Linked DNA regions of Homo sapiens. The protein of the gene in region 6 purifies or fractionates together with the protein of the main gene of each other region. This does not show direct contact. Each region holds a gene or a part of one and is shown on either strand. Other genes may lie near its edges. The genes, in order: CSTF3, SFXN1, NSDHL, CYRIB, LIG1, SYT6 and NAA15.

Region 1 (4,407 bases), on a different chromosome or scaffold from region 6:
TTTTGTTTCTAGTTTTCTTTTTTCTTTGAGACAGGATCTCACTCTGTCACCCAGGCTCGAATGCAGTGGCACAATCATGGCCCACTGCAGCCTCAACCTCCTGGGCTCAATCAATCCTCCCACCTAGACCTCCCGATAATGGACTACAGGCATGTGCCACCATGCCCAGCTAAATTTTATAATTTATAGAGATGGGGTTTTGCCATATTGTCCAGGCTGGTCTTGAACTCCTGGGCTCAAGCAATCCACCTGCCTCGGCCTCTCAAAGTGTTGGGATTACCACCGTGAGCCACCATGACTGGCGTTGTTTTGGCTTTCAGTTAGCGTGTTTTCAAAGTTCATGTTTTTGCATATACTAAGTACTTTACTTTTGACAATATTCCATTATGTGCATATCCTACATTTGTTTATGTATCAGCCGATGGACTTTGGATTGTTTCCAGTTTTGGCTATTATGAATAATGTTACTATGAACATTAGTGTGTAAGATTTCTTTGTGGAGTTCATTTTGTGTGTTTTCCTTTTTCTTGGATATATACCTAGAAATGGAATGGCTAAGTAATGTGGTAACTCTTATGTTTTACCTTCTGAAAAACTACCAGACTTTAAAGGGGCTGTACTATTTTACATTTCCAGTATAAGGGGTTCTAATTTCTCCATATCCTTACCAACATTTGATATTATCTTTTTTATTACAGCCATCCTTGTGGGTCTGAAGTGATATCTCATTGTGGTTTTGATTTACATTTCTCTGATGGCTATCAAAGTAGAGCGTCTTTTCATTTTCTTATTGGCCATTTGTACATCTTCTTTGGAGAAATGTCTGTTCAAATATTTTGCCCATTTAAAAACTGGACTTATCAGGAGTTTGAGACCAGCCTGGCCAACATGGTGAAACCTTGTCTCTACTAAAAATACAAAAAATTAGCCAGGCATGGTGACAGGCACCTGTAATCCCACCTACTCAGGAGGCTAAGGTGGGAGGATCCCTTGAGCCGGCGGGGAGGGGCAGAGGTTCCACTGAGCCAAGATTGTGCCGCTGCACTCCAGCCTGGGCGACAGAGCGAGACTATGTCTTGAAAAAATAGAAATAAATAAAATAAAAACTGGACGTATTATTATTACTTTTTAGAGGTATAGTTTTGCTATGTTGCTCAGGTTGGACTTGAACTCCTGGGTTCGATCAATCCTCCTGCCTCAGCCTCCCAAATAGCTGGGACTACAGGCGTGCACCACCGCACCTGGCTGGGTTTTTTCATTAATGAATTTTTACATGTTGGAGTTACAAATCCCTTATCAGACATGATTTACAAAAACTGTATCCTATTCTGTGGGATGCCTTGCCACTTTCCATGTTTAACCGTCTGTTATGTGAAGCTAACTAACTCAGAGAAATAGAACTTACAATCTTGGCTTCACAGACATGATGTACTATTCCAACTATTCTCAAACATTTTGTAAAGGATTGCTTCACATTCTTAAAAACTGAGGAGCTTGGGCCGGGCGCGGTGACTCACGCCTGTAATCTCAGCACTTTGGGAGGCCGAGGTGGGCGGATCACAAGGTCAGGAGTTCGAGACCAGCCTGGCCAATTTGGTGAAACCCTGTCTCTACTAAAAATACAAAAAATTAGCTGGGTGTGGGCACATGCCTGTAGTCCTAGCTACTTGGGAAGGTGAGGCAGGAGAATCGCTTGAACCCGGGAGGTGGAGGTTGCAGTGAGCTGGGATCGCACCACTGCACTCCAGCCTGAGCAAGAGTGAGACTCCGCCTCCAAAAAAAAAAATAACAATAATAATTGAGGAGCCCAGAGGGATTCTATCATTACTCACATAAGAAATTAAAACAAAAAATTAAAGTATTTAATTCACTTAAAAATAATAAATTCCTTAAATATGAATATAAATATTTTACTGAAGGAAATTTTCCAAAATAAAAAAAAAAGTCAAAAGAATGGCACCATTTTACATTTTCATGATCTTTTAAATGTCTGGCTGAATAGAAGACATTATCTGCTTCTTTCAATCTGTTACAATATATTGTTTTAGATGAAAAATATGAAAAAATTTTAGCCTCACAGTTACGTAGTTGGAAAAGGGAGGAAAGACCATTTTTAACAGCCTTTACATACAATTGTGGATAGGTGATGTAGCCTCTGGAAAGCCCTATGAGTTATGCTTTATTGAAACTCCTAACCACTTTCTTTCTATATGAGCTCATAACTTTTATTAGGAGGTTGTTAATGGGAAGGTGGGATGTGAAGAGGTGACAGACACTATCATGTTAATGACTGAAATAATATAATTTAAGGCTGGGCACAGTGGGTCACAACTGTAATCTCAGCACTTTGGGAGGCTGAGGTGGGAGGAGTCCTTGAGGCCAGGACGTTGAGGCTGTGGTGAGCTATGACCACGCCAATGCACTGCAGCCTGGGCAACAGAGCAAGATCTCATCTCTAAAAAAAATAGTAATAATAACAATAATAATAATAATCTAATTTCTTCCATTTCGACCATGCAGGTAAAACAGACAAAAAAAAAAAAAAAGATAATTCTCTTTCTCCAAATAGCTACTTTCATGATAAATTAGAAGGGTGTTATATTAGGAGCCATACTGAAATTAAGTTAAAGTAGGGATCAGTTAAAGTGATAACACAAAAGTATGAATAGAGGGGGAGAAAGATGGTAGACTGAAAGATTTAAGACGATGTAAGCTTTTTACTATGACCAACAGAAAAAGCAGAGTTGAGCCTCAACCCTGGTTTTATAATGAGTATTTCTCGCTATTCAGGGTAATAACTAAATATATGGGGGTGGGGAGCAGGTGGGCAGGAAAAATCAGTAAAATACCATCCTCAAATATCTGCCATTTTTTCATCCACTTATTTATCAAGAATATATTTTAAAACAACCAGCTATCATCTAACTCTGTGGTCTGCAAGCTTTTATTGACATAAAAACCACTGTGGTACCTGTTTCAAACGAAGATTCTCAGCCCCACTGAACAGTTAGGTTTGAAATCAGAGTCTACGTATCTATACTTTTATAACGCACCTAATTATGACATAAATGGGCCATGGGCTCCACTTTAAGAAATATGTACCACCTCATCTATCTGTTCCACAAATGTTTTCCAAATGTCACGTTTCATTAAAAATAAGGTGGCAACAAACCTGTCATTCCAAGTGAATTTTTTGCTAAAATATTAAGAAAACTGAATATACTATATATTTGAAGTCTTAAGTCTCTCTCTGTGGTTAACTTTTTTTCAAAATTAAAAGTAGACCGGAGTAGCACTCCGTAAGACTTTCTTTTTTTTTTTTTTTTTTTTTTTGAGATGAAGTCTCACTCTGTCACCTAGGCTGGAGTGCAGTGGCTGTACCTTGGCTCACTGCAACCTCCGACTCCCGGGTTCAAGTGATTATCCTGCCTCAGCCTCCCAAGTAGCTGGGATTACAGGTATGCACCACCACACTCAGCTAATTTTTGTATTTTTAGTAGAGACGGAGTTTCACCATACTAGCCAGGCTGGTCTCAAACTCCTGACCAAGTGATCCGCCAGCCTCAGCCTCCCGAAGTGCTGGGATTACAGACAGGCGTGAGCCACGGTGCCGTGCTGAGACTTTCATAGAGGAGTAACCTAACTGATTCCATTCATATGCCCAGATAATAAAGAACTATATGTGACAGGTGTCACAATGAGACCGGATATTAGGACCAGATGTCAGCTTAGTTCTGTGTTCCTTTACCAATGCAACCAAACCCTACTTCATGTTTGTTGTGAATGAAACTGAACATGTATCCTACAATACAAAACTAATCCCTCCAAATCATCCATAGATTAAAAATCTAAACATACAAACAACTCAAAAACTTAAAAAAAAAAAGATCTTGGGCCGGGCATGGTGGCTCACACCTGTAATCCCAGCGCTTTGGAAGGCCAAGGCGGGCGGATCATGAGGTCAGGAGATCAAGACCATCCTGGCTAACACAGTGAAACCCCATCTCTATTAAAAATATAAAAAATTAGCTGGGCGTGAGGGCGTGGTGGCGGGCACCTATAGTCCCCGCTACTAGGGAGGCTGAGGTAGGAGAATAGCGTGAACCCAGGAAGCGGAGCTTGCAGCGAGCCGTGATTGCGCCACTGTGCTCCAGCCTGGGCGAAAGTGCAAGACTCTGTCTCGAAAAAATAAAAATAAAAAAATTAAAAAAAAAAAAAAGATCTTGGCTTAACATATTAGTTCAAATAATTATATTTACCATTATCTGCTTAGTAAACTTGCATATTCATCCCCTAGGAAACAAATAGCTACAAAATATAAATTAAAATCTTAACCGTTTGGAACTTAAAAGATGAGACTTCTTTCAAATATGAATAATCCAGATTTAATACACTAAATAAACTAAG
Region 2 (4,036 bases), on a different chromosome or scaffold from region 6:
ACAGAGCGAGACTCCATCTCAAAAACCAAACAAACAACAACAAAAAACAAAAACACGGATGTAACATTACAACCATTGCTCATATTCCAGTCCTCAAGATCAACTATGGGCATGGATTTCTTAAGCAGTATCTTAGGATGGGTGATGTTATTACAGTTAAAAAAAAATCTTCTGATTTCTATTTGAGATGGTGATATCAGCCTGCAAAAAATGAACAACACTAAACTAGAATTTTAGACATATTTGGATGAAGTTTTACCATCCATGTATAAGAATCAACTCGGAGATGCCATATACCAAAGTCTATAAAACTATTTTACAAATTAACAGCTGCTAAAGAAAAACTTAGTAACTTTGAACTTTGTGTAATTAAGTGCAGGTTTGACACATGGTCTAATTTAATGACTTTTCACTTTCTGGACAACAGCCCTTTGTTCCCCCCTTTTTAAAAAATGGATTCACTACTTTTGATTTCTTACCTTTAACCACAAAGGAAAAATTGGTCACACTCATGGTTCTACTCTAACTGAATGCAGCTCACCACTGCTACACAACAGGATACAGATGCCTGACTTCAACGTAAGTCTTCCAGAACAACAACGTTTGATGACGGGTCTGCTCTTACCACCTTTGCTGTCCAGGCTGTCCTCTCAGCTTTCTCTGCAGGAAGTGAGGAGCAGGAAGGGATATTCCCTGCCAGTTGGTGCCTTTCTGTATCCATCCCCATGGGGTTTCATAGAACTTTTACAGAAAATTAAGAACAGCTAAACACTTCACTGATCCTGAATTATGACACCCTTTGCCATATAGGGTCCTCTCTGACAACTGTAACCACAGATATCATCCCTTTTCTGAACATCCATGTGGCCTGAAAGCCTCAATCTAACCTCTGAATACGTACTAAGCTGAGATGGGAGCTGATAGCTCCTCCCTGCCAAACACTGTATTTTTTTTTTTTTAAGACGGAGTCTTGCTCTGTCGCCCAGGCTGGAGTGCAGTGGCGCGATCTCGGCTCACTGCAAGCTCCGCCTCCCGGGTTCAGGCCATTCTCCTGCCTCAGCCTCCCGAGTAGCTGGGACTACAGGCGCCCGCAACCACGCCCAGCTAATTTTTTGTATTTTTAGTAGAGACGGGGTTTCACCGGCTTAGCCAGGATGGTCTTGATCTCCTGACCTCGTGATCCGCCCGCCTCGGCCACCCAAAGTGCTGGGATTACAGGCGTGAGCCACCGCGCCTGGCCCAAACACTGTATTTTTGAAAGTGAGACACCTGCTCAGTGCTGAGGAGAGAAAGGATCTGCTTGAGGTCCCAGAACTTCTTGGTAGCCACCCCATTCATCCTCCCAAACAGTTCCCTCTCATCTTTTATATCAAGTCTGAAGCTGTAGGAGCTGCAAAGCCTCCTCATTTACCTGCATCCTCCCTGGGCACCTATAACAATGCCTAGAACACTGAAGCAGATCAGTAAAAGGGGGATGGACAAAGAAGGGAGAATCCAAAGGCACCCAAGTCAAAATCTAGAAGTCAACGCAGAAGAGGGACTAGGACTGTGAGAAATGTGCAGGGAAAAAGCTATGGGGGCGCAGAAAAGAGTTGCCTACGGAGCAGCTAAGTGCCCAGGCTCTGGAGTGAAGCAGAGCTAGGCTTTTTCGTTCAGGCAGTCAACAAATACTCATTGAGGGCCTTCTTGGTGCAGGCAATTGTTATGCGCAGGGGATAGATAGGCTGAGCAACACAAAATAGGCCCTGTTCACATGAGGAGAAGAAAACATGTAAACACCTTTAATTTCAACTAGTGACAAAAGACACTAAAGAGAAAAAACCCAGAGTTTGTGTTACAAAGGGTGTGTGGGGGGATGGGGGGTGCAATTTTAGACAGCATAGCCAAGGAAAAGCGTCTTTGAGAACGCAGTATTTACGACTGAGACTCAGATGGCCTTGGACTATGGATGGCCAGCTGTGTGACCTTGGGCACTCAACCTCTCAGAGCCCCAGTTTTCTCATGTGGATTATAGAGCCAACACCCAGTACCTCGCAGGGCCGGAAGAGTGTAAAAGTATATGGACCTAAGTCACCTGGCACGCACTTAGTAGACTGTTTATTGTCATTCTGGGCAGGTTAGAGACCTGTGACAGACGTGAAAGTTCAGGAGAAAAGCGTGAAAATGCAAGGTCCCTGTAGGACCAACTACTACTCCAAGAATCTACTTCCTTGCACATCACCTCCCTACTGGATTGCGAGTTCTAGGGCAGGAACCAGGTGGTCTCCCCTCCGACCCCCAGCACCAGGAGGCAAAGCCGAGAGCGCGGAGCGCTGGGCCAGGCACTGGGCCACCTGGCTGCCGCTGCCCCCGAGGCAGCCATCTTGGTGTCCCCGGAGCGAGTTCGCCACGCAGGCGCCGAAGACAGCGCGGCCAGGCGCGCGGGGACGCGGCGGAGGGCCCTTCCCACCGGGGACGAGGCCCACGGGATGCTGGGCCTCGGGATGCTGGAAGCGTGGTGTTGTCCGGCCGCAGGATGCCAGGGATCCCCAGGTGCAGGGACCCCCCCCCCGGCCCGAGGCATCCCCGGCCCGCAAAGGGGCTTCCGACCTCCGAGCCCGGGGTCTCCCCGCAGCCGGCCCGCGGGTGCACGGCCCGAGCCTGCCCAAGCCTGCGCGCCTCCGCCGGGCCCCCTGCGCGTTTCCCCACCCACCTGGCTGGGCCTGCCGCCCGCGACTCACCGCTTCCCCCGGGCTGCCGCCCGCGCTGCTCGCAGGTCCCGCTCAGTGCAGCCTCCGCCGCCACCGGAAACGCTTCTCCCGCCACGGCGTCCTCGCGCGTCCCCGGAGCGCGTCCTCGCGCGCGCCTGTGAGCGCGCGTCCGGGCCCGGGAGCTACGAGGCCCAGGGACCCGCCCTCCGGGTCCAGGCCCGGGTCCAGGCCCCGCCCCGCGCCCGCGACTCCGCTTCTGGCTTAGCGACCGCGCCCCGGGTCCAAGAGGAACTCCAAGCCCATCCTCACGGTGGTGTGGGGCTCTGCGCGGGCTGGGGCCACTATGTTCCATTTGGGTTTCCCTTAAGGGACTGCTTCTTTATCATTTCTTTATTCCCAGGGCCTTGGCGTAGCCAGCATCCGTTCACGCAGTCATTTACCCAATTAAAGTGTGGAGCTTGGCAAGACTGGCGCTACAAGGCGATTTTAGGACTTTAGTGCCACGACCTGATTTATGTCTTAAACAACAACAACAACAACGGCGCACTCTGTCTTCTTTATGGAGAACAGACTGCGTGGGAGGGGATGTGGAGGCAGAGAGGCTGTTTAGCCAGATGCTGTGGTTATCCAGGAGAGGAATCATGGTATTTTGGACCAGGTGGGTAACCTGGGCATATTTAAAGGGCAAATGAAATCTAATAAATGGTGAATTACATCATAAATTGCATAGGAAGATTCCATTTTTAAAGATGTAAATTCTCTCCCAAATGACCTATGACAATAAAAAAAAATTCGACAACACTAGTGTGCTTGGTGGAGTGTGTGTTATAACTGCACAAGCGGACTGCAAAATGTACATGAAAAAAATAAAGAGCCAGAAACAGCCAAACAAGCTTTTAAGAAAAGAGCAAGGCAGAGTGACTTGTCCTGCAGATACAAAACTTGTTATAAAACAATGGTAAATAACAAAGGTGGTGTGTTTGCTCCGGGGTCAACAAAGAGCCTCGCGGAGCCAAATAGAGTTGCCATCCATGTAGAAACCTGCACATGTAGAAACCTGCTGTGAGTTGGCATCACAGGTCAGGGGACAAAGGTTAGATATTCATTAAACAGTACTGGGATAGCCAAATCCCTACTTGTATAATACATGAAACTCAACTCCAGGTGGATTAATGATCCAAACGTGAAAAACAAAACTTCTAAAACTTAAGCAATATGTCACAGATATTTTGAGTGCTATTCCTCATCCTCCAAATTCCTATGAATGTTTAACTAGCTTTTTCTCTGTACCATACCCTGTGCCAAGTGCTGGGCTCAAAAAGATATATAAAAGATCGCCCCTTCTT
Region 3 (4,407 bases), on a different chromosome or scaffold from region 6:
CCCACCCTCACACCAAAATCTGAAAATGCAGGACAGACAGCTGGGCAAAAACTGGTAAGATCAAATCAGAAGGCCCTGGTTTGCGTTCAAAGGCTAAAATCCACCAACACTGCCAGAAGACATGCCTCGGCAGCAGTTTGTGGAAAACGTCCAAAGGTTCTGGCAAACAAGTTAGCCGTGAGCCTCCAGTGACTTGAACTGCATGTGCCGCCCACGTTTCCACCAGGCCGGGTCTGTTCCAGGCAATTCTGAGTATCACCTCCGAGGGGAGGGCTCTGAGAAACCCAAGTGGGCCCAGAAGAGGGTCAGAGAAGGTGAAGGGTCTGAAGACCATGCCTGGGGAGAAACAGGCCAGCAGCTGGGGGGCAAAGGAGGCCGAGACATGTAAAGTCCTCAGAGCAGTGCCTGGTCCAGAGCCAGTGCTCCTGTTGCCACCGCAAGGAAAGGGTGACTTCTGTGTGACTTCATGGACAAACTAGAACTCAAGAGTCTAAAGCACAGTGAAATGGGTTTCGCCTCAAAAGTAACAAAACTTTCCAAAGGATTTGTTTTATCGTGGGTAAAAGTGGTGATCATAAAGGTACCTACCCTGACGGGGCTGCATGCGAATTACACGAGATGGCCCATGTGAGTTGCTTCAGTGCGTGTCTGTATGCTTGGTAAGTACGGTTCCTGCTGTCATGTCACCTCGGGTTTCTTCTACTCTATGGTAGCAAAGTGCTGGTCTATGTTTTGGCCCCAGTGATCTTAAGCAACTCAACAATGGAAAAGCTGCCTCTCAACAGATTCCCAGAGCTGGCCCTCCTCTTCCCGCCAGGACTCTGGTCCCCACAGCGATGGAGGAAATGACTAAATAAACCCTCAAATGGCTTCCACCAAGGCTCATCTCTACTACTAAAGGGAAGAGAGGTGAAGGAGTCCTAGCTCCCCATCACATTTGGTTTATGATCAGTAGGAAGGTTATAAAGCCAACAGTGGATGTCAACCTCGGCTGAAAGGAGGCTTCCGGTGAGTTACTGCTGGAGTCATCTGCAGGCTTTGCTTATTTCCAGTTGAGAACCCAAAAGTTGATATAAGCGAGACACTGATGGTCTGGGCCAAGGCCATCATTTGAAGCTCCTGAGCCTAGATGGGCTCAGCTCTGGTGGCAATCAGTATCAGGCATATTGGGTTGAGAATACACAGGGTCTCCATGGTGACTGAACTGCCTGCAAGGCGCAGGGAGGCTTTAGTACTCCTTGGGCCAAGTTCGAGCACATGAGTGCTCCAAGGAGCAAGACAGCATAGTCTGGAGCCAGGACTGTGGCTTGCCAAAGTTCAAGCCTCCACCCCTGGTCTGGGTGGCCCTTGTGTCTCCCTGTGGACCAGTTCTGCCAGGACTTTCTGAGCTGAAGCAACAGCAGACAGGCTGGGCATGGTGGCTCACGCCTGTAATCCCAGCACTTTGAGAGGCCAAGGCGGGCAGATCATGAGGTCAGGAGTTCGAGACCATCCGACCAACACGGTGAAACCCCGTCTCTACTAAAAATACAAAAATTAGCCGGGCATGGTGGCACGCGCCTGTAATCCCAGCTACTCAGGAGGCTGAGGCAGGAGAATCGCTTGAACCTGGGAGGTGGAGGTTGCAGTGAGCCGAGATCGTGCCACTGCACTCCAGCCTGGGCAACAGAGTGAGAATCCATCTCAAAAAAGAAAAAAAAAAAAAATACGGCAAACAGCCAGGAGGCAGCTGGCTCTCAGGTAGCCAGGTCAGTGTTCAGCTCCAGTACAGCATGTACCGGCTTTGCGAGAAAACCTCAGTGGGTGTGATACACTGCACACACCTGGGAGGGGTATACTCACAGCTACCCAGCTAAGACGAGCTATCCCAGGCTCAGGAGCACTCCTGGCCTGCAGCTTAGGATGGCCTCAGGGTGACAATCCCCATCTGCAGCTAGCAGTTGTCAGGGGCCCCACAGCCCCAGCAGCCTGAAGGCTTGGTAGCGACCGTGGCTGAATCCAACCATACTAAAATCAGGTGCCCTTTGATGAAGCTGTTTTGCCAAGTGGAAAAGTACTTTTTCCTTAAAATAAAGCAAGATCCTTCCGTTGTTTGTTTTTCTAAGTAAGGGAGGGGGTGAGAGTGCCACTAGGAAGGTGCCTCCAGCCTGATTCCTGTCTGCACGCTTGCAACTGCTGTAAATTCCCATAGCAGGCGAGGAAGCTCCCATGGCATTGAGGGTGGGCTGTAAGCTCTGTAGACAGACTGCCTGGGGTCAGCCACCTCCTAGCTGCACAGTTTTAGAAAGGTTCTGAGCCTCTCTGTGCATCTGTGCACCACAGTCTTCATCTATAATCTGGTGATGATGCGATAATTGTGACCTTTAAACAAGGAAAATACTCCTGGAAAACACTCAGAACAGTGTCTGGCCACATAAAGCTGTTCTCATAGTAACTTTTTTTTTTTTGGGAGACAGCGTCTCTCTCTCTCTATCCCCCAGGCTGGAGTGCAATGGCACAATCTCGGCTCACTGCAACCTCCGCCTCCCAGGTTCAAGCAATTCTCATACCTCAGCCTCCCAAGTGGCTAGGATTACAGGCGCCTGCCACCATGCTGGGCTAATTTTTGTATTTTTAGTAGAGATGGGGTTTCGCCATGTTGGCCAGGCTGGTCTCGAACTCCTGACCTCAGGTGATCCACCCACCTCGGCCTCCCAAAGTGCTGGGATTATAAGCGTGAGCCACCGTGCCCGGCCTCTCACAGTATTTTTAAATTTAATTTCACCCACAAATTTTACATCTCAAATCAGGTACGTAGGCCTCAGAATACAAACTTCATAAGTTCATAAACATTTTTCTTAGGATTCTAAACCCTTCAGTCTGCTCACTCAACCAGTTCCAAGGTACATACCCTCTCCTGTAAGATCTTAGTCTCTGTGTAGTAGTCAATGGGTTTCATGGCATAGGGAAGGTCTTCAGTTCCATTCTTGATATCGACGCCCTCAAAGATGACACTGGCACTGCTGGTTAAAATGAGTTTCTGACAGAGGAAGGTCAGAAAAAATAAAAGTCACAAATTATCACAATTCAAACAGTGCATGATCCTGTATGAAAGAGAATCAGGGGCATCCCTTTGTTGCCCTCGCATTCGAGGCACTGAAGAAATTATTTGCTGCAATGCCTTTGCTTTTCATGCCTTCTTAAAATAATCCAAAGATCACCATCTTTTGCAGCTATGTGGATTCCAGACACACTATGTATTACATTCTAACCAAGAATCAAGAGATCTTGGTTTCAAAACAAGGGATAACACATTTTTTCTATCCCATCACACCTGAGAGATAGAATAGACTTGCATTCATGGTATCTCACTATGACAGCGATTCTCTGTTGTAAGTGAAGGGCAGCCCGCAAACTTCTAGGAAGATGTCTGAAAAAGATCACTGGCTATTCTGATAGTGACCTGGCCATGTGAACACACATAGGAATACACACACCACACGACCTCTTAAGAAATGCTATTCTAAAGGAAGATATTCTCTTATGAGGGTCCCCAGCGTCCAGCCTGCTGGTTAAGAGAAGCTCATCCAACACTGAACACCATTAGCATGAATCATATCGTTCCCATTCTTATTCAACATTGTATGAGAAGCTCTAGCCAGAGTGGTAGGGTAAGATAAACACGAATTTATAATGATTTGAAAAGAAACTGAACTTCCATCGCTTACAGATGAGAGAAAAATCTACACAGAAAACACAGGCAAATATGTAGAAAATATTAGCGTTTGGCAAAGTTGCTGAATTAAAAATCAATATACAAAAATTAACTCGTCTTATATATTAGCAATAACTGAAAATGTAATAGAAAGTTATTAAATAACAAAAAACGAAGTACATACAAATAAATTTAACGAGATATGCAAAATCTTTACGAAGTAAAGTATAAAACTCTATTGATGACATTAAAGAGCGAGATAAACAGAAACATATCCCATATTTATGGACAGGAACACTCAATATGGGAAAGATGTCAATTCTCTCCAAAATTACCTACAAGTTCAACACAATTACAACAGCAGTCTCAGCTGGCTTTAGCAAGGAACTGGTTAAGCCAAACATATGTAGAAGAACAAAGGGCTCAGAATAGCCAAGTGAAGTTTGAAGAAATTGGTTGGGGGCGTGATTTATCTACGGTACACTGAGACTTATCCTAAAAAGGCAGAGCTTCTCTGCATGGGCAGACAGGGAGGTCAATGGGGCAGAGGGGAGAGCCTGGGAACAGGCCCATGTAAGACACAAACACCTAAGACATGCTGCAGATGGTGTGCAGCGATGCAGAAAGGATGGATTATGCAATAAATGGCACTGAACTGGTTATACACATGGAAGAAAGTTAGATCTCTATCTCACACCATAAGCAAACATAAA
Region 4 (4,407 bases), on a different chromosome or scaffold from region 6:
ATAGTAGCCCAGCTTCATCAATGACAATTCTGGTTCTGCAGTGGGATGTGATTTGCCCAAGGTCATGCAGCGCTGAGAAGCAGGCCCAGGGCTCCATCAGCCCTGCCATGCAATAGGCTTTGTTGAGTGAGCACTGGATGTAAATTCCAAAGAGCTTAAAGCGGCCAGACAGAGCCAGTGACAGGAGACTCTATTAGGCAGATGAGGAAAGAATGGAGCTTTTCTTCCTCCTACCGCCCAAGCCTTTCCCATCCTTAACTCCTCTGCACAACGGGGCCCTCACTGTCCTTCCCCCACCTTCTTATCAAAGGATGCTGGTGCTGGGAGGGGGAAAAGACAGAAAGAGGATTAGTCTCTGGCATGGTTTATGTTGATTTCAAAGCTGTCACTTTTCCCACATTGGGCCTTCTTTTTCACTGTGGATTTAAGTGCCTAGTCCCCTGATGAACGAAGGTCAAGGGCAGAGGTACATTTTGAACTAGAGAAAGTCCTCAGCATCCTCCTGCTCTCACAGCCTTACTGCTAAACACAGCAGTGGATGCAGAGGGTGGCACTGTGGAGCGGTGAGCAAAAACCAGGCTCAGGAGCCAGAGGCCTAGGTTCCAGTCCTGACTGTGCCTCTTGGTCAAGATGCTTCCCCCCAGGAGGTCCCAGTTCCCTTGTGTGTTAAAATTAGAGTACTGGATGCTTAGGCCTGAAACTCTGAGTATGGGGTTTCTGCTCAGTCCTTCAGCTCACACTGCCTCTCCTCCCCCGCTCCCTGAAGGCAGCCCCATCTCAATGGCTCACAGCATCTAGGCCCTCCTGGGCTTATTCAGCACCTGCTGGCAGACAGAGGTGGTCTCTCTCCCACCCCTTCCTGCTCCCACTGTCACCTGTCCTGAGGTCCATCCTAGGCCTTTGTCACTTTGTCATATGTGTGTTTTCGCATGCATGCCTCCTCCTCTAAGCTAACTTGGAAACCTCCAGGGTCATGTAGAGATTTGCACCATCAGCATCAGCCTGGCTCCTGAATGAATGAAGGGGAGAGGGTCAGGTTGGATGATCTCCTGGCCCACTGCACTCAAAGTATGGTCTACAATCCAGAGGCATCGCATCATGTGCAAAAGTGTTCAAAATGCAGCATCTCACCCTGCCCCAGCCCCTGCTCAGAACCTCCGAGGCAATCCCCACGTGATGCGCAGCACACTCAAGTTTGGAAAGTTCTCTTCCAACTCCTCCCTCCCTTGCTTCTACCACCTAGAAGCCTCCGGAACTATGGCCTTAGCAGGTCTCACTAAAACATAGCCCATCATTAACCAAAAGAGATCTGCCTTAGGAACCTTCTAGAAGCCCGCCACTGACTCTCACAAGCAGAATCTGAAATGTGTGCTCCCCGGGGGGACTCCTGGCACACATTACTCAGTGGCCCTCTCCGACCCTCAAGGAAGCCCAGGAAGCTTTCAAGAACGCTGAGGCGGCCAGGCGTAATGGCTCATGCCTGTAATCCCAGCACATTGGGAGGCTGAGGTGGGTAGATCACCTGAGGTCAGGAGTTCGAGACCGGCCTGGCCAATATGGGGAAACCCTGTCTCTACTAAAAATACAAAAATTAGCCTGGTGTGGTGGTACGCGCCTGTAATCCCAGCTACTCGGGAGGCTGGGGCAGGAGAATCGCTTGAACCCGGGAGGCAGAGGTTGCGGTGAGCTGAGATCATGCCATTGCACTCTAACCTGGGCAACAAAGCAAGACTCCATCTCAAAAAATAAAAATTAGGCTGGGCATGGTGGCTCACGCCTGTAATCCCAGCACGTTGGGAGGCCGAGGCGGGCGGATCACAAGGTCAGCAGATTGAGACCATCCTAGCAAACACGGTAAAACCCCATCTCTACTAAAAATACAAAAAAAAAAGAAAGAAAGAAATTAGCCAGGCATGGTGGCGGGTGCCTGTAGTCCCAGCTACTCGGGAGGCTGAGGCAGAAGAATGGCATGAATCCGGGAGGCGGAGCTTGCAGTGAGCCGAGATCGCACCACTGCACTCCAGCCTGGGCGACAGAGCGAGACTCCATCTCAAAACTAAAAATAAAAATAAAAATAATTAAAAAAAAAAAGAACGCTGAGGCCTGGCAGAGTCAGACAGACTGGCTGCCCACTCACCCACACGGATCCCATGTCCACGTTCAGAAAGCTCTCTTCCCTCATTTCTCTACTCTTGACATTTATTCAGCTTGTAAAGAAAAGGATCCTTTCCAAAACACGTCTTCAGTTTTTTAATAAACCCCGCAATTCCTTTAATGATTTCAGATTATCTTAAATATTTATAAAAATCACTCTCAGCAACACTTCTTTAAGCAAACCTCCTCATCAACTTCGATTATTTATATATTTATGAACACGATGTTCAAGGAGCAGATGGCAGCTAGTAAGTCCTCCAAAAGAAGGAAAAAAAAAATCAATGGGACAGAATGTAAGCTCCATGACTCGTCCATGTACTCTTCTCGACAAGCTCTGGTACAATTATCTTTCCATTCAGCGGAAGCGCCACACAAAAGTCCACAATTGGTTTAAAATAGCACACTTGGACTTCATAAAGCTTGGAGGCTCCAAGTTTAATCCAGGAATGACCTGCCAGCCAAGGGCTCTATTCCCAAAGGAAACTGAAGCTCTGTCAGGGGAGGGTAAGACATTGGATGCAGGGACAGATGATGGGACCAGGGGAGGGACAGAAAGAGCACCAGGGGCTGAGGGAAGAAACAGACATTGCTGAGCACCTCTAGGTGCCATGCTCTCTGCTGGGCACTTTCCATACAACCTCTGGGTTGATCGTCACAGCAACACTTCCAGGTGGCGACTGTTAGTCCTCATTTGAAAGATGAAGAGAAAGACAAAGAGAAAGGAAGTATCTTGGCCAAGGGCACAGAGCTAGTGAGTGGCAGAGCCAGGATGTGAACCCAGGCTGTAGGGCCCCAAAACCTTCACTGCCTCTAGAAAGAGAAAAGGAGGAGAGGAAAAAAAAAATATTGCTCTCAACCTCATGCATCCTAGGCTAACAAAGTTGCCTTTCTTTCAGCCTGGTGAGGCCAATCACCCATTTTAAGACTATCAAAGACTTAATTGCCAAAGTTCTACTGAAGCAAAAGGACCTGATCCATCTGAGAGCCCAGAGAAGGATGAAAAACAAGATTACAAGGCGTCCGTCTTCAACAGGCCTTTATCAAGTATCCCCTTTAGGGAAGAGAAAAAAAATCAATCCTTCACTCCTCCCACCCGAATTTCCTTCTTTCAAGAAGCTCCAATTCAAGCTAAAACAGAGAGATGAATCTGGCCTTTGAGACGCCTATACGCTTGCTGAGCAAACAGTGATTATTACTGTTGTTGATGATGATAACAATAATCATGGATGGTGATCACTATTATACGGGGTGTGCAATGGGAACAGGGGCCTATGCTAAGGACTTTGCTTATGCTACTGCCAGGAGCAACACATCCCCGTGACACATGCGCCCATTTTACAGATGAGAACACTGAGGCTCCAAGAAGGCAACAAACTTGGTTCCATGCACACGAGCAGTGAGAAAGAAAACCAAGGCATGAATTTGGATCTTACTCTCTTACTCAGGAGCCCTGGGAGACCAACGGGGATTCTTTTGCCTGTTTAGAGATGAGGAAAAGAGGGGGCCGAGAGTGTAGTGACCTCTAGAAGGCTGCACAGCCAAGAGATAGTGAAGGTGTGTCTGATAAAATTCATACTTAAAATCTGAATTTTCAGCTATACAACACTTCCTTTACAATGCTCAGTGGTGGACGATTTTGCTGAAGACAGCCAAGTCCCAGACCGCCAAAGCCACATGAATCGTGGTCTCTTCAATTAACGAGATGGCAGTAATGCTGAGCACGGGTGAGGCCACAACCTCCTGGCACCCGCGTCCCTCGGGCGTCCTTCCTGTTCTTCGTGTGCATGGGTCTCTGGATCCTGATATAAGAGCTGTCAGGGACCAGGATTCCACATAGGGAGGAACCACGGGACAACCATTTCAAGGTCAACTGCAGGCCAGTGCGCTGACCTTGAGATGGAAAAAGAATGTACATCCTCAAAGAGCAAAGGGGAACCCATCATTCTTCTGCCCATTCTGTCAAAAGACACGTACTGTTTCCTGCATGGGCCAGGCAGCAGGTCAGGTGCCAGAGGAAGCACAAAGACCACTCAGCGTCTGCAAGAAGAAAAGTGAGCTCTGCAGGCTGAAGACTTAGGCAAGGACCCTCAATCTGCCCCTTCCTGACTGAAGGTCTTGGGCCAAGTCCTGCACTCTCTCTAAGTCTCAGGAAAACGAGAACCCTAGCTCTCCTTTACAGGTAACCCTGGCCACTCCACAGTTCAGTCATTAAAAATGAATCTGGGCCGGGCACAGTGGCTCACACCTGTAATC
Region 5 (4,407 bases), on a different chromosome or scaffold from region 6:
CCTCTGCCTCCTGGGTTCAAGCAATTCTCCTGCCTCAGCCTCCCGAGTAGCTGGGACTACAGGCACACGCCACCACACTGGCTCATTTTTGTGGTTTTAGTAGAGATGGGGTTTCACCATGTTGGCCAGGCTGGTCTCCTCAGGGGTCCACTTCCTGTAACTGCCCCGAGCCCTGTGGCTCCCACCCACTTTGCCTGCTTACCTATCCCCAGGTGAGAAGGCCCCACACTTGCCAGGACAGAAGAGACACAACACATTCTTACAGACCCCAGGACCAAGGACGCCTGAGGCCCTGGATCACAGGACACACATGCACGTCACGGCATGAAGGGGTCATGTAGGCACCTCCCAGAACGGCTGTTAAAATGAACACACCCACCAGCAGCATCAGCGGAGCCCACGTTTCATGAGCTCCCACTATCATCGGTCAGGACTCTGGAGGATTGTAGCTTCGGATAAGCTGGTGAGGTAGTTAAGACCACACCCTAGAGGCCAGGCACGATGGTTCATGCCTGTAATCCCAGCACTTTGGGAGGCTGAGGTGGGTGGATCATGAGGTCAAGAGATCGAGACCATCTTGGCCAACATGGTGAAACCTCGTCTCTACTAAAAATACAAAAAATTAGCCGGGCACGGTAGCGGGCGCCTGTAGTCCCAGCTACTTGGGAGGCTGAGGCAGGAGAATCACTTGAAGCCAGGAGGTGGAGGTTACAGTGAGCCAAGATCATGCCAATGCACTCCAGCCTGGATGACAGAGTGAGACTCTGTCTCAAAAAAAAAAAAAAAAAAAAAAAAAAAGAACACACTCACTGCATGGAGGTGGATGCTGAAGCCCAGAGAGATGAGCGAGGGCTCGGCAGTCTGTGGCGCAGGCCGGCTTGAAGCTCAGGCCTCAGTGACCCCACACCCCTGCTCTTTGACGTTTTCCTGTCTGTGGAAGGGACATGTCCCACTCCCCATACCTGTGCCCTCTGCCCGTCATATTTGTATTCGCAGGTGAAAGCTGCCTCCTCAAAGCGTTTCAGGACCTCGCTGATGCCCCGGGTGGGATGGGCCAACATTGGTTTCAGGGGAATCCCTGGGAAAGGAGGAGAGTGAGTTAGAGGAGAGGGAAGGCAATGGATTAGAGGGGGAACATGGAGAGGAGAACTGCTAATGGGCCCCAGGACCATTCTGCTTTCTTGCTATTCAGTCACGAAGCCTCCCACGTTTTAGAAGGGGACCTAGCCTCCCACTGGGGACTACAGCCCCCGGCCTTCCTTCCAGGTGGGAAAGGCCATGTGATTGGAACCCACGCAGCATGTGCAATGTCTGGCTCACATCCTTGCAAGGAATCTGGTTGCCTCCCCTCCCTCCTCTGCGTCCCTCCTCCCACAATTAGAACAGGGAAGTGAGCCACATTTGATCACAGACATTGGGGTGACAACCTTTGGAGGGCAGAGGGACACAGGAACCTGGGTCCCCGGGTCATCCCTGGGACACAGCTGCACACCTGTACCTTCCCTGGCCACCTCCCTTGCTCTGGACACTTCTGTGTGACAGAAAGAAATTCTATCTGGCCTGACCCACTGCCTTCTGGCCCATTTTTATTTACTTATTTATTGTCTCACTCTGTCGCCCAGCTGGAGTGCAGTAGCGCGATGACGGCTCACTGCAGCCTTGAACTCCTGGGCTCAAGCGATCCTCCCACCTCAGCCTCCCGAGTAGCTGGGATCACAGGCACACGCCACCACGCCCGGCTCCTGTTTATCACAGCAGTGTCACCTACACCCTATCTACTCCACAAGGGGAAATTCCAAGGAGAAAAGCAGTGGGTTTCAGCACCAGGGAGGAGCATTTGGTTTTGGTGGGGGAGAGGACTCTGCAAGTTCTGAGAGGGGCGCCTACGATGGCCACCCTCACGCCGACTCAGGAGGGAGCAGGGCTGCTGCCAGGCTGGTGAGCGCCCCTGGGGCCTGTACCTGGGCTCAGCTTGCAGTGCTCCGGGAGACGTTCCAGGCCGTGCTCCAGCAGCACGGGGATAATTCGGTCCAGGTCGGGAACCTCGCTGGGGTGGCGGGTGAGAACAAGATAGGGGAAGCCTTTCTAGAACTCACACAGTTTGGAAAGAGAGCTCGGCCTGCTCCCAGAAGCCTGGGCTCCTGGATGCCTCTGCCCACTGAGTCACCACCTGCCAAGCTCCTCTTGCCACCCTGTCTCTGTGCTCTCCCTTCGTGTCACTATCTGTTGCTTTGTCTCCCTTAGTCTGGCCTTGCCCCTGTTCCCTATCTGTCACCACGAGACCAGCGATTCTCTACTCGGCTACACAGGAGACCACTCAAGAATACAGTTTTTAAAAAAAGGTTTTTGGCCGGGCATGGTGGCTCATGCCTACAGGCATGTAATCCCAGCACTTTGGGAGGCCGAGGTGGGTGCATCACTTGAGCCCAGGAGTTCAAGACCAGCCTAGCCAACATGGTGAAATCCCATCTTTACTAAAAATATAAAAGTTAGCTGGGGGTGGTGGCACGCGCCTGTAGTCCCAGCTACTCAGGAGACTGAGGCAGGAGAATCACTTGAACCCTGGAGGCGGAAGTTGCAGTGAGCTGAGATTGTGCTGCTGCACTCCAGCCTGGATGACAGGGCGAGACTCCGTCTCAAACAAAATAAAAATAGACAAAGGTTTTCAAGGCTAGGTTCCACCTACAAAGATTTTGATGTAGCTGGTGTGGGGTAGGCCTGAGGTCAGCAGCTGATAGAGCCCCACGTGCAGGCAGAGTTGAGCTTGCTGCCCGGGCCTGTTCACCACTCTCTGCTCAGCACCCAGTGGGGGGCCCTGGCCCAGAGCAGGTGCTCTGAGGCCATCTGTGGAACTGCCATCGGCCCTCCTGCCTCTGACATCCTCTCTGGGGCAGTCATGATCTTGGAGTCACCAGCCCTGGGTCAGCTGCTGGCCTAGGTCCCTCCACATGGCTCTCTCTGGAGCCCTCGTGGCCGCTCCACGGATGTCCTCTCCATGACTGTCAAGACCCTTCACCATGTGTCAGTCACCTGCTCCTCTCTGGGTCCCTTAAGGCCTTTCTGCATGCACAGCCCTGTCTGGCACTCAGAAACCTCATGTTGCCGGCTGCCCTCCCTTGCTGTCAGCGTCTTTCTTTTTTTTAAGACAGTCTCACTCTGTTGCCCAGGCTGGAACGCAGTGGCGTGATCTCAGCTCACTGCAGCCTCCAACTCCTGGGTTCAAATGATTCTTGTGCCTCAGTTTCCCAAGTAGCTGGGATTACAGGCTAATTTTTGTATTTTTAGTAGAGACAGGGTTTCACCATGTTGGCCAGGCTGGTCTCAAACTCCTGACCTCAAGTGATCTGCCTGCTTCAGGCTCCCAAGTGCTGGGATTACAGGCGTGAGCCACTGTGCCTGGCCGCTGCCAGCGTCTTTCTATACCTCTCCTGGGGTCACTGACCCTTCACTGTTTGCCACCTTCCTGATCTTTGTCACCATCCTTGTGTCAAGCACCAGCCTTGTCTAGATCACCACCTCTGCTCTCAGTCACCCCGTGACCGGCACTCGTGATGCCTGTCCGTCACTTCACTGGCCCCACCCACTGCTCCTCTGGCTCCACCCCCACCCTGGCACTCTGCCCACAGCCCCTGGCAACTCCACCCACTGCCCAGCTCTCACCAGAACGTCTGCTTCAGGATCATGCCTTGCTCCTCCAGCCACGTCTTTCTGGCCTCTGCTGTCTTGCCCTTCCCAGCATCCACCATGGCTGGTGGGAATTCTAAGAAAAGACCCACCAGAGGCTTTGGAAGGCACCCACATCCTTGGCTACACCAGGGTGCAGTGGGTGGTTTGCTGTATGGCAAGGAATGCAGATGCCGCGGCCCAAGACGCCCCCTCCCCCCCACCCAGGAGAGAGGAGCCTGGTATGGCAGGGGCCCGCTGGGGAAGGGGCGGGCATGGGCCTCTGAAGAGGAGGGGGGAAGCCTGAGGTAACTCCAGCGAGGGATGCAGAGACGGGCCACAGGAGCTCACCTTGGCCCGGGGGCGTGAGGCTCACTGCCTGGGAGAGGGCAGCCAGCACCGACTGCTCTGCCAGCCCAAGGCGCAGCCGTCCGCTCAGGGACCTGGGGAGAGAGCAGGCCAGGGAAGGGGGCTTGTCTGCACCTCCCCAATCTTGCCTCCTCCCTTCTCTGATCTCCTCGACCTTGATGTATGTAGACCCTCTCCTCAAAAACCAGAAGAATCTTCAGAGCCTGGAAGGGACCCCAGATATCACACAGCCCCATGTGACAGATGAGGAAACTGAGCCAGGCAGTAATGATCCTGCCCACTAGCATAGACTGGGGAGGGGCACAAGTAGGTGCACCAGCACCTCCCATCTCAGCTGCCCTGAGGGGTTGGCGAGGCTTGAGGAGGATGAGTCAG
Region 6 (3,946 bases):
GCTACTGCAATCTGCAGGTTGTAATTGCAGCATAGCCCAACCCATACTAACAGACACAATGACCCCTTTGGTTTATCAGCTCTAGATGTGACCAGCACATTGCCACATCCTGCTGGCTGCTGGGTGACCTGATGGGAAGCCACTGGCAAGGGGAGGCTGCCTCTTCAGGCAGTAGAGTGCTGCTCTCAGCAGTTCAGCTCACTGGGCCTCTCACGGTGGAGCACCCCTCATTCAGATGCAGATGTGCAGGAATGGACGGTCCCTTCCACTCCCCTCTCTACGGACTGCTCTCTAAATTAATTAAAAGCTGCAGGCGAGCAGAGAGATATTCTATTACATTAGAATGTTCTTTTTTTAAAAAAAAATGTTGAGGCTGCAATAGTATTTTCCCATGGCTTTGCCAAATTGTGTTTTACGATGGTTAGCAGGATTCTCTACTGGTGGGTGACAGCATCGTACTTCCCAGATGTGTGTGGCCCACTTCCCTAGGGGAGCTTCAGCATCTGCAGGGGTTGCTTGTTGAGCTGAACAGCTGAGGGAACAGCGGAGCCCTGTGCGCCAAATGATCTCCGAGCCACAAGCCTGACAAAACACAGGTGGATTCCAGCCTGATGAGGTACACAGGTATTCCTTGGACAGAACAAAAAACAAACAAGCCGTTCTGCTCTACCTCTGATAGAAGGGAAGTGGTTATCCATGTGAAGCAAAGATTGAGAAGAAAAGCTTTGAGATGTCCTGTGCGTGTGTTGACTGCTAAACCCCAGGAACATAAAATGACAAGAGAAATGGGCAAGAGACAGAGATTTAATTGAATAAAAACTCCAGGCTGTGACACGGGTGGGAAGACACAAACGAGTAATTAACAACATAATATTTTAAATGACAGTGCAATTAATTAACGTCCTGGGTAAGCGCAGAGGGGGAGGAGGGCGTCTTTCAGCCCGGAAACACTGCTAAATAAAGGAGAAGGGAACTTTTCATGTTTTTTAAAAAAACCTATGTGCAAATGGCCCTGGTTATCACAACTTCATCAAAGCTCACAGCAACAACCCGAGAGGTTTCTCCGGCCAGAGAAAGCCAACAAATGGATCAACTTTGTATTTCATTTTCTTCTTCTCTGTGAGGGAAGAGATACTGGGCTAGATAATGAAGTTGGCAGATGTTCAGGTTTCATTCATGATTCAGGCTGAGGAGTAGTCTACCTTGAGGGTGCTGGGGATGAGGCTGCAGGAGATAAAAGCCTCCCTGGGGTGGGCTCCCAAGCCTGTAGGAATTGACCCAGACTGCTAGAGCAGCAGCGGTTGCAGTTGGCCAGGGTGGTGTGGGGCTGGCTAGAATCTGTTCAGGACATGATTTTCTGAAACCACTGGGATGTTCACTCATGGGAGATAGCTGCTTGGATATAAGAGGAATGTCTCAGATGAGCAATACTATTGTGATTCACATTGATCACACTCCCTTCTCCAAGAGGTTAGAATGGGTTATACTCACCTGCCTAAGGGTTTAACGATGACAGCTGGACATGAATTTTGAGTTCACTTCCAGAAGGACCTTCTCACACTAATTTCTGGACTCCTTATGACCCAGGGAACTCAGTTGTCTCCTTTGTAATGGCAAGGCCTTCAGCATCTGTTCACTGACGGAAACGACTATCTTGATGGGGTCAGTCTAGAGTCAGAATCATAATGAAGTCTGTCACCTGCCAGGAATCTTGTCATGACCTTGGGTTTTTTCTCACTCTCAGGAGAACACCCAAATGTAGGACTACCAGACTAGGAAGGCCTGTCAATGACAAGATATCTGGGGAGAAAAGTCATCTTTACACATGAGTCCCTAGCCTAAGGCTCAGTACAGGGTGGAGTTTAGGTTTATCTACATTTACTTTTCTAAGCAGAAAATTCCTTTTGCCACAATATCCTGTTAACTCATGCCCAACCTGGTCATTTTTAGGGCTAGAAGATACTATGCAGCGTTCTATCAGCAGAGAAATCTGACAACTTGGTTTAAAATGAGGGATACTTTATTGGTCGCTGCTCCTCTACCATGTAGCATATATAAAGAATAAGACACAGGTGTGTGAACAGATTTTCTGTTCTTGATTTTCCACTGTTAAAAGAAGGGGTTCTTCAGCAGACTTGCCTCTTGCAAGTAGTACACACAGCTCAGGAAACTGGCACTGTGTCGCCACAAGTCGAAGTAGAAACTCACCTCCATGCGCTTACTGGGGTTATACAAACTGAGATTGAGCAAATCAACCTGGTTTTAGGGGTTGGTGGGAAGACCACTATTAACTCAACAGAAATGTGCTATTACAACACAGAATAGTTCAAACAATTTTTTTTTTCCTAAACTGAGTTTGGCCTAAGGTAAAGATCTAAAGGAAACAAGAAACCCTCACAACCACTGAAACAAACAACACTGAAGTACTTAGTAATTTATAGAACTAAAGTTTAAGATGAATATTGTCAAAGAGCCAAAGGGGCTGAAATAGGCTTACGCTGACTCGGTTTCAATCAAAAACATACTCTTCATAGAAAGATGGACTCAAACTGCTATTTGGATTTCAAAACTCCCCATTTGGAAAAGAACATTTAATCTAGGTTTTTCTTTAATCTGTTTAGGCATTTTAAACAGCAGCTTGATACTTCATGGAATTATAAAGCTATGTATAATGCAGAAATCATTCCAGAACATATGTTTCTCTCTTACTTTACAATCAAGATTATTTCTGAGGACAAAGATCCTGTTTTCAAACAAATGTGATCATTAACTGTGGCGCATCAGAAAACATATGGCGTGTTTAGTTTCGGCTGAACTGAATCATTCCTAAAGAAAGTGACTAAGTTCCCATGAGGAATCAAGACGTTTTCAATTCATGGGGAAAGCCAGCGAGGAAGGGGAGCGAGGAACCCTGCACATCAGCTGAAGGCTCACAAGCGCCTCAGAGGTCTTGTGATTTCAACACGGGACTGAGGGTCCCAGCGTGGTTTATGTCCTGCCAGCGAAGAGCTTCAAAGACTAGTAATTCACCTCACAAAGGCTCTTCCATGGATTCACCCCATTCCTGCAGGGCACTGAAAATGCAGCCGCAGTCCCACCACGCCTCCTCCTTTTCCAGGGTTGTGGAGCTTGCTGGAGACGCAGCATTTCAGAAACTCAATCCACCTCTTTCCAAAAAACTGTACCTTGTATTTTCTAGAACCAACTTCTGGGCTTTCCACCCTTTGTCTTTTCCTACTCTTTTTTTTTTTCCCTTTTCTTACCAGCAGACCCATAAAAAGTGAAAAACCACAAAAACATCACCTTGGGAGACACAAAAGACTAAGACAGATCTGACCACATGACAAGTGTCTCAGCTTTGACCTACACAGGAGCAGGTAAGACTCTGGAGTGACGGACGGCTGCCGCTGCTGCCGCCACTGCGACTGCACAACACTGTTTAGACGGTTGAACAAGTGCAAAGAGAACATTGCTGAGTCCCATTTGTGTTATTTGGCTGCACATCTCATGGTGTTGGAGGTGGTTTCGGAGATGGGCACGAGCTCTCACTGTCGAAGCTAGCAGCTCGGCCCTGCCACTGCAAAGAGGAGAACAATCTGTTTATTAATTGCTAAAGGAATTTACATTTCAACTTGCAAAACTGAACTGGCCCAATGCACTGAATTCACCTTTCCTAGCTTCTCATAAGCTTTCTTGAATTTTGCTGTCAGCCATGCAAAAACATAAGGGAAACAGCTTAGAGCTTCTAGTTTGGAATACCTGATTTTCAAAAAGACCTACTGCAGAGATAATTAAAGCTTTCTTAACTCTCTCTCTCTCTCTCTCTCTCTCTCTGTGTGTGTGTGTGTGTGTGTGTGTGTGTGAGAATGAGGTGCTCTGACTGGGCCATTTCTGTGTGCTTCAGCCATTTTTCACACTGAAAATCATATTATGTTAGCAGCGAAAG
Region 7 (4,407 bases), on a different chromosome or scaffold from region 6:
TGATTTTTAAATTTTCTGAAAAACACAAAGCAACTCTAACACTACGATTACTTTCCCTCAAATTTTTTTTTTAAAGAGATAGAGTCTCGCTATGGTGCCCAGGCTGGAGTGCAGTAGCAATTCACAGGCGCAATAATCACAAACTATAGCCTTCAACTCCTGAGCTCAACCAATCTTGCTGCCTCAGACTCCTGAGTAACTGGCATGCACCCCTGCGCCCAGCTCTTCTAACATTTTATATTTTAAATTTTATAACAGGTCTATTTCTTAATATCATATATAGTGGTCATCAACCCTGACTTCGTGTCAGAATCGGTTGTAAAGCTTTATGAAATGACGTATGGCTGAGCCCTACTATCTGAAGATTCTAATACAGCAGCAGGCTCCTCACAACAAACTCATTTAATCCTGATACCATTTCTCCTCCAATGCCAAAACCAAAGAAACAATAACAAAATTTTCCTCTTATTATGCTTTTGTGATGAAAGGCTATATAAACAAATACTATAATTCATTTATAAATTAAACTTCAAAGTCTTACCATAATATAGGCTCTGCCCAATATCCTACAATTATTTCATACACTAATGTACTCTGTAATGCCAAAGCCCAGCTTAACTCCCTTCTCCAAAAATTTATGCAAGCACACAATCCAAAGATCTTTTTCTCTCTTGCCCTGTAATCACTATTTTCACACTCACTTCACATAACAAATATTTATTAAACATCTACTATGGTACATCATTTTAACCAATGTGAATAGAGCCATTAACAGACGTCCTTATCTTCATAAACCCTACATTTTAATTGTGGAAAACGTGATAAACATAAAAGTAAATGTATGTCAGAAGCTGATAAATGAGAATAAAGTAAGAAATAAGAAAATAAGGTGAGAAGGACTGACTGCTAGCCAAGGAAGGTCTCTAAATAACATTTAAAGGACACCTGTTTAGCCAGGCATGGTGGCATGTGCCTGTAGTCCCAGCTACCCAGAAGACTAAGGTGGGAGAATCGCTTGAACCCAGGAGACAGAGGTTGCAGTGAGCCGAGATCACACTACTGCACTCCAGCCCTCCAGCCTGGGCAACAGAGTAAGACTCTGTCTCAAAATTTTTTAAATTAGGCCAGGCATAATGGCTCACACCTGTAATTCCAGCATTTTGGGAGGCCGAGGCAGGTGGATCACCTGAGGCCTGGAGTTCAAGACCAGCCTGGCCAACATGGTGAAACCCCGCCTGTACTAAAAATACAAAAATTAGCCAGGTGTGGTAGGAGGCACCTGGAATCCCAGCTACTCAGGAAGCTGAGGCAGGAGAATCACTTGAACCCAGGAGGCAGAGGCTGAAGTAAACTAAAATTGTGCCACTGCATGCTAGGCTGAGTGACAGAGCAAAACCCTGTCTCAAAAAATAATAATAAAAATAAATTTAAAATTAAAAATAAAGGACATCTGAGCAGAAGTCCTAAAACAAATAAGAAAAATGAGTCACACAGGTATCTGGGGGAGAAAATTCTGAACAGTCCTTTGCATATGATCCTTTATACGACATAGCTTTTTATGTCCAAAAATGTTTTTTTTTTTTTTTTGAGACGGAGTCTCGCTCTGTCGCCCAGGCTGGAGTGCAGTGGCGGGATCTCGGCTCACTGCAAGCTCCGCCTCCTGGGTTCACGCCATTCTCCTGCCTCAGCCTCCCAAGTAGCTGGGACTACAGGCGCCCGCCACTACGCCCGGCTAATTTTTTGTATTTTTAGTAGAGACAGGGTTTCACCGTTTTAGCCAGGATGGTCTCGATCTCCTGACCTCGTGATCCGCCCGCCTCGGCCTCCCAAAGTGCTGGGATTACAGGCGTGAGCCACCGCGCCCGGCCCAAAAATGTTTTTATGAAGAAAGAAGATATATTTGAATCAATGCTCTGTCAGAACTTCATTGTCAGAAGCAGAAATATTAAAAGATATAAGACTGCACACTAAGGAGAGGGATCCCTTCAGTTGAGGCCAGCTGGACAGTATCTCTCCAGTCCCCCAATCACACCGAGCACCATGCCCGCCCCTCTGGAAACTGTTCATTAACCAGCGCTCCAATAGTTTGGATGGCAATTCTATTATCATCAAATAACTAGTTTGAGCCCCAATAATGACCCAGGACTGCAAGACTTTGACACATCTAAAAAATGGAACATTAAATTCAGTTCCCTTTTAAGCTTTAGTCTGCTTTTCTGAAAATATAGTGTTGTCCATCTACTACTATTGAAAACTGAACTGTGGTCACTCTGCACAAACAAGTATTTTTAACCCACTCTATTGACGCAAAAGAATTTTTAAAAAATATTTTTTAAAACATTTCAGGTTTCTAACACAATACAGAATTTTAAAAATATATGCTGTCAGTTTAAAACAAAAACATATATTTGTTCATTCATACTGCATCTCACTCCAGAAAGACAAAAATTAAAAAGTAAGCAAACAGGCCAGGCGCAGTAGCATGTACCATAATCTCAGCTACTTGGCAGGCTGAAGCAGGAGGATCACCTGAGCTCAGGACTAGCCTGGGCAACACAGTGAAATCCTGGACACACACACACACACACACACACACACACACACACACACACACTTAAAAAGCAAGCAAAGAATAAATTTACCACATTATTAAAAGATTTTCACTTCTCACTAGATTTTTTTTTTTTTTTTTGAGACGAAGTTTCACTCTTGTCCCCCAGGCTGGAGAGCAATGGCGCGATCTCGGCTCACTGCAACCTCCACCTCCTGGGTTCAAATAATTCTCCCGCCTCAGCCTCCCAAGTAGCTGGGATTACAGGTGCCTGCAACCACGCCCAGCTAAGTTTCGTATTTTTAGTAAAGACGGGGTTTCACCATGTTGGCCAGGCTGGTCTCTAACTCCTGACCTCAGGTGATCCACCCGCCTCAGCCTCCCAAAGTGCTGGGATTACAGGCGTGAGCCACTGTGCCCGGCCCTCACTCGATTTTTACAGAAAAATCATTTTGTAATTTTTATAATAATTATATACACATTATATACACATATATAAAATAGCAAAACTGCATTTTGTTTTCTGGTATACTTTTAAGGGATAATTTATCCGAGTTTAAATTTACGATTACCGGCAGGGTGCGGTGGCTCACGCCTGTAATCCCAGCACTTGGGAGAGGCTGAGGTGGGTGGATCACCCGAGGTAAGCAGTCTGAGACCAGCCTCGCCAACATGGCGAAACCCTGTCTGTACTAAAAATATAAAACTTAGCTGGGTGTGGTGGTGGACACCTGTAATCCCAGCTACTGGGGAGGCTGAGGCAGGAGAATCACTTGAACCTGGGAGGTGGAGGTTGCAGTGAGTCGGAGAGTGCAGTGAGCTGAGATCACGCCACTGTACTCCAGCCTGGACGACAAAAGTGAGACTCCATCTCAAAAAAATAAATAAACTTATGATTAACTACTAAGAGCTGAATGGGATTTCAGAACAGACCAAACTTTGTTTCCATTTTTTGATTTTTTGTTATATTCTAAATATATGAAGTACAAGCAAAAGTATATTAAAACCAATTTCAAAGTTACTGTCCACTCTTAGTTGCAAAACTGGAATTCTGTCACAAAGAAATTAATCAGTTAAACTTTCATGTGCATATGGACACCTACTTGCTAACAATTCCTAATCTAAATTTCATCAGCAACTGAAGCTAAACTAAGTATCATTAACTAGCAGAAACATTAACTTTCCCAAAGAAAATAAATCACATAAAATAATTTACCTATTATACAATGGGCCGGGCGCGGTGGTTCATGCCTGTAATCCTAGCACTTAGGGAGGCCAAGGCGGGCAGATCAGGAGGTCAGGAGATCGAGACCATCCTGGCTAACACGGTGAAACCCCGTCTCTACTAAAAATACAAAAAATTAGCTGGGTGTGGTGGCAGGTGCCTGTAGTCTCAGCTACTCAGGAGGCTGAGGCAGGAGAATGGCGTGAACCCGGGAGGCAGAGCATGCAATGAGCCGAGATTGCACCACTACACTCCAGCCTGGGCAACAGTGAGACTCCGTCTCAAAAAAATAATAATAATAATAATAATTTACTTATTATACAATGTATACAGCCACCTAATAAGTATTACTACTCCTTTGCCTAACAATTCCCTCACCCTCCTCCTACACCCCTCCCCTAAATAGTTAAACACTAGGCAGGTGTGATGTTAAGTGCCCTGAAAAGAAAAAAAGTTTTATTCCAGACTGTAACTAACACTAGCTGTTGACCTTAATCTCAGTCTGTTTGCTTAATAAAAATGTCCCCACCTTGAAAAGTTTTGAGAATTAAGAAAGGACTCTAAATAAAGCATGCTGTGTCCAAAACGGTAACCATTCACCACATGTGACTATTTGAATTTAAATTAAGAT

Evidence for each region.
Region 1: the proteins of SYT6 (region 6) and CSTF3 purify together in Homo sapiens (affinity purification with mass spectrometry; one large-scale study listed by BioGRID and IntAct). This does not show direct contact.
Region 2: the proteins of SYT6 (region 6) and SFXN1 purify together in Homo sapiens (affinity purification with mass spectrometry; one large-scale study listed by BioGRID and IntAct). This does not show direct contact.
Region 3: the proteins of SYT6 (region 6) and NSDHL purify together in Homo sapiens (affinity purification with mass spectrometry; one large-scale study listed by BioGRID and IntAct). This does not show direct contact.
Region 4: the proteins of SYT6 (region 6) and CYRIB purify together in Homo sapiens (affinity purification with mass spectrometry; one large-scale study listed by BioGRID and IntAct). This does not show direct contact.
Region 5: the proteins of SYT6 (region 6) and LIG1 purify together in Homo sapiens (affinity purification with mass spectrometry; one large-scale study listed by BioGRID and IntAct). This does not show direct contact.
Region 7: the proteins of SYT6 (region 6) and NAA15 purify together in Homo sapiens (affinity purification with mass spectrometry; one large-scale study listed by BioGRID and IntAct). This does not show direct contact.

What each region holds. Positions count from the first base shown.
Region 1 is NC_000011.10:33,151,182-33,155,588, forward strand, and holds part of CSTF3 (cleavage stimulation factor subunit 3), read right to left. Parts: intron 1-4,407. UniProt on the Homo sapiens protein: One of the multiple factors required for polyadenylation and 3'-end cleavage of mammalian pre-mRNAs.
Region 2 is NC_000005.10:175,477,324-175,481,359, reverse strand, and holds the start of SFXN1 (sideroflexin-1), read right to left. Parts: upstream 2,801-4,036; 5' UTR 2,721-2,800; exon of another isoform or gene 2,693-2,720; intron 1-2,692. UniProt on the Homo sapiens protein: Amino acid transporter importing serine, an essential substrate of the mitochondrial branch of the one-carbon pathway, into mitochondria.
Region 3 is NC_000023.11:152,861,208-152,865,614, reverse strand, and holds part of NSDHL (sterol-4-alpha-carboxylate 3-dehydrogenase, decarboxylating), read right to left. Parts: intron 3,020-4,407; coding exon 2,891-3,019; intron 1-2,890. UniProt on the Homo sapiens protein: Catalyzes the NAD(P)(+)-dependent oxidative decarboxylation of the C4 methyl groups of 4-alpha-carboxysterols in post-squalene cholesterol biosynthesis. Also plays a role in the regulation of the endocytic trafficking of EGFR.
Region 4 is NC_000008.11:130,009,781-130,014,187, forward strand, and holds part of CYRIB (CYFIP-related Rac1 interactor B), read right to left. Parts: intron 1,541-4,407; exon of another isoform or gene 876-1,540; intron 1-875. UniProt on the Homo sapiens protein: Negatively regulates RAC1 signaling and RAC1-driven cytoskeletal remodeling. Regulates chemotaxis, cell migration and epithelial polarization by controlling the polarity, plasticity, duration and extent of protrusions.
Region 5 is NC_000019.10:48,132,020-48,136,426, forward strand, and holds part of LIG1 (DNA ligase 1), read right to left. Parts: intron 4,107-4,407; coding exon 4,015-4,106; intron 3,761-4,014; coding exon 3,661-3,760; intron 2,048-3,660; coding exon 1,962-2,047; intron 1,079-1,961; coding exon 963-1,078; intron 1-962.
Region 6 is NC_000001.11:114,088,506-114,092,451, forward strand, and holds the end of SYT6 (synaptotagmin-6), read right to left. Parts: intron 3,578-3,946; coding exon of another isoform or gene 3,506-3,577; 3' UTR 787-3,505; downstream 1-786.
Region 7 is NC_000004.12:139,307,634-139,312,040, reverse strand, and holds part of NAA15 (N-alpha-acetyltransferase 15, NatA auxiliary subunit), read right to left. Parts: intron 1-4,407. UniProt on the Homo sapiens protein: Auxillary subunit of N-terminal acetyltransferase complexes which display alpha (N-terminal) acetyltransferase (NAT) activity. The NAT activity may be important for vascular, hematopoietic and neuronal growth and development.